Linked DNA regions of Homo sapiens. The protein of the gene in region 1 purifies or fractionates together with the protein of each later gene. This does not show direct contact. Each region holds a gene or a part of one and is shown on either strand. Other genes may lie near its edges. The genes, in order: CSRP1 and YBX3.

Region 1 (3,820 bases):
GCTATGGCTACGGGCAGGGCGCAGGCACCCTCAGCACTGACAAGGGGGAGTCGCTGGGTATCAAGCACGAGGAGTGAGTAAAAGATCCCCTCCCAACCTTTTTCTTGAGCTCTCTCCCCCACCCTGTATTAGGCCTCATGTGTATTTACAACCATTTTTGGGTAAGCAATGGAAGGCTCAGAAAACCAGTTATTTAAAAGGCAGTCACAGAGCAGTGTCTATGTGTCAGGCTGCTGCAGGAGCTGGGGATGCAGCAGGGACTAAAACAGGCTGGGCTCCTCCCTGCAAGGAGCGTGCATTCTATATTTGTATGAGAGTCAGAGCTGGGAGGGGCCCCAAGAATCACTTAGTCCAATTTCCTCTTTTTTTGTTTTTTTTTGAAAGGGAGTCTTGCTCTGTCACCCAGGCTGGAGTGCAGTGGTACAATCTTGGCTCACTGCAGCCTCTGCTTCTTGGGCTCAAGTGATCCTCTTGCCTCAGGCTCCCGAGTAGCTGGGAGTACAGGCATGTGCCACCACACCCAGCTAATTCTGTATTTTGTAGAGACAGGGTTTCACCATGTTGCCTCCTCTTTTTATAGATGAGAAAATCCAGCCCAGGCTCAGTGACTTGCCTGGGGTCCCACGGCTAGTGAGTGTCGGAGCCAGATCAGGGGCTCAGGGCAGCACCGTTGCCACACCAGCCTCACTGTCTCAGCCCTGCTATCTCTCACTACTGAGAAGAAGTCATTTCCCTTTCTTCGAAATGCCATAGGGTGTCATCAGCCCCACCACACCCCCCTCACCCCACGGCACTCCCTGGCCTCTGGGTAAATGGTGGCTGTTGGCAGTCAGCCTGGCTTGCTCCTCGGCCTGGGGGGTGGACGGAAATGATGGATGAATTACCAAGTTTCAGCCAAGGTCATTGCCCCAGTGGGAATGATTCATCAGCAGATTTCTCCTGTAAAGAATCTGATAATAGACCAGCTGCAGGAATGAGGGGCAGAGGAGGGCAATTCTTAGCAAATGGGGTGTTAAATGATTCTGGGGTTAACTGGGTGACCGAGGGAAGTATGATGTTACAATGGAAATAACATTGTGCTGAGGCTTGGTTTGTCCATCTGTAAAATGGGAGATGACCCTAGAGGCCCTAGCCTTTGTGACTTTGGCAGAGAGAATTGCGCGCTGCTCTGGCATGAGATGAAGGTAGGGTCATGCCCTCTCAGTGCCAGCCCCACCTGTACTTACAGTGTAAGTCACCTCACCCCATGCCCTTCTCCATGCAGAGCCCCTGGCCACAGGCCCACCACCAACCCCAATGCATCCAAATTTGCCCAGAAGATTGGTGGCTCCGAGCGCTGCCCCCGATGCAGCCAGGCAGTCTATGCTGCGGAGAAGGTGATTGGTGCTGGGAAGGTAAGGTGGCTGCTGGGCATGAGAGGGATGGGGGGAGATATCTTCCTGAAATGTGGATTCCAGAACTTTTAAATTGGTGACCTAGCTCTGCTCAGGGCAGCCTGAGCACTGGGGTTTAACCTCTTCTCTTTGTCCCTGTGGGTTGCATGTACCTGTGCTTTCCAGTCTCCAAGGAGCTCATATCAGCCATGAGCAGTAACATCCCCAGCATTGATGGACAATGGGCAATTCATAGGGAGTGGCAATGATCAATCTGTATCTCTAATATAGGAGAACAGAAAGTAAGGGTACGTGGATGGGCTGCAGAGGGTCCACAAAGCCCTGAAGATTATATACAAAGTTTCATGGGAACCTGTCTGTTTCTTAGAAGAAGATCCATAGCTTTTATTAAATTTTCAAAGGATTTGTGATCCCAAAAATATACATTCTGTTTCATGGGATGTGGACTCCCAAAAACCCATCCAAATACCCCCAGGGCAGAGATTTTCAAGGTTCAGACCTACCAGAGCCTCCTAGGAGGCTTTTTTCACACTGTTTAGAATTGCCGCACATGCCCTTCCCCCATGATATTCTGACAGTAGCCCCCAATCACCAATGCACAGTGAGAATCACTGTAGCAAATCAACAGTTCCCAATTGAGCTGATCACTTCCTTCAGATAGGCTGCAGTAGAGAAGAGGCAGAACTCTTGCCCCTGGGGTTTGCAGTGTCAGATTAGCAGTCAGAAAATCACAGAAGAGATGTCTTTCAGCTGTGGGGCCAGAGAGGAATTCTGGAGCATCACGTGAGGCCTGAGATAGAAAAGTGACTTGGCCAAGATCACACAACAAGGTTATGGAATGTCTGGGCCTGGAGCCCATCTTCATCTCTTCTGGATTCAGGTTTTGGCTTTCAAGGCTTTTTGACCTTGAGGAATGGGATAGGGGAATTGATCAAGAAATGTTAAACAATTAACACTTAGGCCAGTGTTAGAATCTCTACTCTCACAGTCATGGTTGGACAGAGATGGGGATTAGTATCCCTGTTGTACAGATGAAGAAACTGGGAGTCAGGAGGATTACATAATTTGCCCAGATCCGCTAGCTAGGAAGGGGCTAAGCCAGACTCAAGCCCAGGTTTGTCTGACTCCGAAGCCCTTGCTCTTACTGCTGTTACTACTGTTAATGCTACTTTGGGCCATTTAGCCTCTTCAAACCCATTTCCAAGGCTGCAAAATGGGAGGGGATCCTAGCACGGTGATTAAGAGCTTGGACTCTAGACAGCCTGCTTTGAATCCTAGTTTTGCCATTTATTGGCTGAGCGAACTTGGGAAAATTTAGCCTTCCTAAGCCTCAGTTCTTCAGCTCTAAAGTGGGCCTGGATGGTGGAGGAAATGCAAAGTGGACCAAGTAATGGCCCCTGACAAATAAGGCAGTTTTTTTTTGTTTGTTTGTTTTTGTTTTTGTTTTCTTTTGGCAGAATTTCACACTTGTCACCTAGGCTGGAGTACAGTGGCGCGATCTTAGCACTCTGCCTTCCGGGTTCAAGTGATTCTCCTGCCTCAGCCTCCCAAGTGGATGGGACTACAGGCACGCGCCACCACACCCAGCTAATTTTTGTATTTTTAGTGAAGATGGGGTTTGACCATGTTGGCCAGGCTGGTCTTGAACCAGCCTGGACCTCACGATCCACCCACCTCGGCCTCCAAAAGTGCTGGGATTACAGGTGTGAGCTACCACACCCAACAACAAGGCAGTTTTAATGATTAAATGAGATAGTACATGTATAATGTGCAATGTAGTGCCTGGTATGTCCTCAGTACAGTTTTGCTATTGTTATTATTATTGTTGTTTATTTTCAGGGATTATTTTGAGGTCACAATGAAGATCCTTGCCATTGACTAAAGGATATGAAAACAGGAGACATTAATATTATTATTAAGTTGGGTTTTTTGTTCTATCTCATTATGAGAATAGAAAATTATTAAGAATAGCTAAGAATCACTATTTCCATTACTTAGGCAGGCTATAAGGTAAAGTTAGGGCTGTACTAAGGAGTAGGATAAGAGAATTTTGCATTCAAGTGGAAAAGGTAGGGAGAAGCCCCACCTTTCTATTGCCTCGCTCAAGAAATGTTGAGCTGGGAGTACTTTTGGGTGCTTATGAATGAGCAAAGGGATTCAGCTTATTTTGGCAGGGAGGTGGCTAGGAAATATGAGGAGAGGTGTTGGTCTAGGTGTGATTCAGTTTTTCTCCAGCCTAGAGAGCTTGGGGTAGCAGCCCCTGCTTTACAGAGGAGGCAGCAAAGGCTGGGTGACTATTGAGGTTGCACCAGCACTGACCTAGACCCAGGTCCCCCCATTTCAGCTCTCTGGAGGAGAAGCCAATGTGCAAGGTTAGGCAACCAGGAAATCTGAGGGGATGAATTTCCTTTCTCATCCACCAGCCT
Region 2 (3,820 bases), on another chromosome or scaffold:
AGGATGTGAAGTACCTTGCTCACTTTGTTTAAAACCTAGATCTGTTTTTAAAATCACAGTGGGAATTCTTAGTATGTTCTGCCAGTCTTATACTCTAGCAGTCCAAGGCTGTTTTTTGAGTTAGTGTATATTCTTTTTAATTTTGAGGCCATCTTTTTATTTTCTTCTCAGGGTGCAGAAGCTGCCAATGTGACTGGCCCGGATGGAGTTCCTGTGGAAGGGAGTCGTTACGCTGCAGATCGGCGCCGTTACAGACGTGGCTACTATGGAAGGCGCCGTGGCCCTCCCCGGAATGTACGTTGTCTCTGTTACTTAACCAGTGATTGAGAAATTGTTCATGCATGGAATTAAGTGTATGTACTTGGAGCAGATAAATGCCTTGTCTTCTCCTGGAGACAAATGATTTAAGTGATTTTTATTTTTTCTTTAGAGGAAATTTTTATCTTATTTTTTAAAATGTGTATTATTGATTTCCATAGGTTTTTGGGAAACCGGTGGTGATTAGTTACATGAATAAGTTCTTTAGTGGTGATTTCTGAGATTTTGGTGCACCCATCACTGGAGCAGTATACACGGTACTCTTAAGGGGAAATTTTAGCGCTCAGAACTTTTCCAGAGCCGCTGGTCTCATTAGACACTTGCCATTCAGAAGTTGTATCAGTTAGGATATATTTGGCTACAAGTAATAGACATTTAATTATCTTTTAACAGGAAGACTTAAGGGAGACAGTGCTGAGGTTTTTTTTAACAAGGTTTCTCTTCATTTGGCTCTTTTTTCTGGCCAGAACCTAGTCACAGACATTCACTGGCAAAGGGGAATGGATTTCCATCATTGACTTAACCTTGTTGTTCATTCTTTGGTGCCGACACTGTTGACCTCTAAGAAAATCAAAATTTGGTTGGTGAAAGAGTGAGAAATAACTTGTGAACAGGCAATAAAAGTACAGGCCACAGAACTATTAACGAATTTGCCTTGGTTAAGAGGCTGTTTTATTTAGCATAGCATTTTTCCATTATTTCAAAGTAAAGAAGCAATAAGTGATTCTGTGGATTTTTAGTTCTTTAGGTTGGTTTCAATGCAGGGGAAAGAGTTTGTCACAAATCTGGCTGGAGCTTTCTTGGGAGGCTCAGTTTATAGGAGTATTCTCAAGGCACCCAAAACGGACCCAGTATATTTGTGGTCATGAGAAACTTACTAGATTTGAATCATTCTTGGTGTTTCTAGAATTAGAACCAGGTATTGGCACATTGAAGAAAACTCCGAATGTTTGTCAGCACAGGATTGTGACTGCCTGTCTCATCCAAAGAAAAACTCATCAGAATTAAATATCTGCAGATTGAGAATGACCTATCTTTATGTTTTGATAGCTTTATATCTTTCTGTTTACCTAAATGCTTTTCCTCCTTATTCTGCCATCATCACATCCTGCCCAAATTAATTCTGTCAGATTCCTTAGGACTTCCCACTTGTTTCTTTGTTTTTGCTTATCTTATTTGGTTTTTAATAAGCTATGAGGGGGATAGCTAGGAATGAGCTGCTGTAGCATTTCCTACATCATGTTCTCTTTGAAGTTCATCAGAGTCACAGAGCGCTAACTGTGATTATTTTGACTCCCAGGTTAATTCAAAAGCAAAAGTGGTAGAAAAACATTCAGTGAAAAATTTTTCTTAAAGACTTTTCCTGTCCAAAACCTGAAAATTCCAAAGTCATGCATATAAAAGATATTTAGAAACAAAATTGTTAAAACGCTTAAGAAACAAAATTGTTAAAACTCTTAAAGTATACATAAATGAGCTTTTTTGTTGTAATATCTAAGTCCCAACAACTTGTTCAGTATCTCTCAAAAGAGTGTGTTCAGCATTGCTGGTGCCATTATTATGCTTTGTAAAACTCTTAAAGATTTGATTGTGTGAAATGCAAAAGAGGAAGATAAGCCCAAGAAGAAAAACAGTTTATGTTGTCTCACACTTAATATTTTGGTAAGCATTTTCTGTGCAAATAAACGTTTACATAATTGTGAATCTCATCTTTGGTAGAGGTTTTATGAAGAGTAGAATGACTTGATTTTTTTTGAAGTTAGACTAGTTGAGGCTTTTTTGGAGGGGGAGTTTGGTTGCACATGTGGACTTGTTCTGGAAGGGTCCAAAGCTTAAATACACTCCTGTAAAAAAAAGTAATGGGTCATTATTTTGCTTTTTTTATTTATTCATTTTTAAAAACTAGTTACTTCCCATTAAAGACATTTGCATATCCCCTTTAAAGTAAGACTTGAAATCACAGTCTTTGTAGGATGTTTGGTTTTTTAAAATGTAAAATGGTAGTATATGATATAATTTAAATAGAAGAAAAATATAAAATGAATCGGTAAATTCCTTTGTGAATATTAATAAGATCTATTATTTAGAAACCTCCAGGATTAGGGCTTACTACCATCAAAGTATGATTAAAGCTTTACTCCTAAACATATAAAGGGAGTCATGCCTTAGGTCAGTGGTTCTCAAACTTCCTGATTTTGGGATCTGTTTATATGCTTACATGTTATTGAGGATTCTAGAGTTTTTGTCAATGTTTATTTATATTAATATTATATTAGAAAGTAAAATAAACTTAAAATGTTAATTGATTAAAAATAACTATATGTTCATGAAAATAACAGTTTTTATGGAAAAAAAATATTTAAATTGAAAAGAGTGGTATTGCTTTATACTTTTGCAGATCTCTGATGTATGGTTTAATAGAAGATAGCTGGATTCTCACATCTGTTTCTGCATTCAGTCTGCTGAGAGACCACATGTCATTGTAGCCTTTGGGAGACCCCACCATATACTTCTGAGAGAATGCCTGGGAAAGGCAAATAGCATCTTAGTAATATTATGGCAATAGTTTGACCTCGCTGACCCCCTGGAAGTTTTCAGAAATCCCATCCACACTTTACAGACTTGTAGGAAGAATACCACTTGGGTCAAATATGTTGGTAACATCATAAAATGTATTCTTTTTTGGCTTTTCCCTGACATTGCCTCAGTGGATGGTAAATGCTGGGAGACACGCATTTGATGGAGCAAAAATTATAAACCTTGCAGATACTCTTCGGGTGGTTGGTTAGCTGATACGAGTTCTAATGAGATGACTATTAAATTGATTGTAGATTGATTGCTCTTGCTTTTCTGCTTCTTGGTATTTTATCTGCACAGATCTACTCTAATCTTAATGTAGTTTATCCCAGGCAATCACATGATAATCTGGGTTAAATGCATTTTGTCTGTATAATGGAAAGGATTATATTGCTTTGGGGAGATTTTATTTTGGTGATATTCATCCTAAATGGTGTTCTTTGGTTCTTTCCTTGCTAAAACTTCTTCTGAATCTCTGTTTCTTTGCTTCGCTAGTACGCTGGGGAGGAGGAGGAGGAAGGGAGCGGCAGCAGTGAAGGATTTGACCCCCCTGCCACTGATAGGCAGTTCTCTGGGGCCCGGAATCAGCTGCGCCGCCCCCAGTATCGCCCTCAGTACCGGCAGCGGCGGTTCCCGCCTTACCACGTGGGACAGACCTTTGACCGTCGCTCACGGGTCTTACCCCATCCCAACAGAATACAGGTAAAATTGCAACTGAGACTTCTCTTCAGCAATCCTCACCCTTCCGTCCTTCTCTGCCTCCTCTTCCTCCTCCTCCTCCAACATCAGCTGCCAGAAACCTTGCTTATGGCTTCCTGATGCTACAAAAGCTGAGGCAAGGCCTTCAGTCTGTTTTTTCAAAGCAGTCATTCCGGTAACACTTCTAAAAGCAAAACCACGTGATCCATGCCTATAATAGGGAACC

The links.
Region 2: the proteins of CSRP1 (region 1) and YBX3 fractionate together in Homo sapiens (co-fractionation; one large-scale study listed by BioGRID). This does not show direct contact.

What each region holds. Positions count from the first base shown.
Region 1 is NC_000001.11:201,486,429-201,490,248, reverse strand, and holds part of CSRP1 (cysteine and glycine-rich protein 1), read left to right. Parts: coding exon 1-73; intron 74-1,264; coding exon 1,265-1,394; intron 1,395-3,820. UniProt on the Homo sapiens protein: Could play a role in neuronal development.
Region 2 is NC_000012.12:10,709,685-10,713,504, reverse strand, and holds part of YBX3 (Y-box-binding protein 3), read left to right. Parts: intron 1-171; coding exon 172-294; intron 295-2,716; coding exon of another isoform or gene 2,717-2,746; exon of another isoform or gene 2,747-3,154; intron 3,155-3,390; coding exon 3,391-3,597; intron 3,598-3,820. UniProt on the Homo sapiens protein: Binds to the GM-CSF promoter. Seems to act as a repressor. Also binds to full-length mRNA and to short RNA sequences containing the consensus site 5'-UCCAUCA-3'. May have a role in translation repression.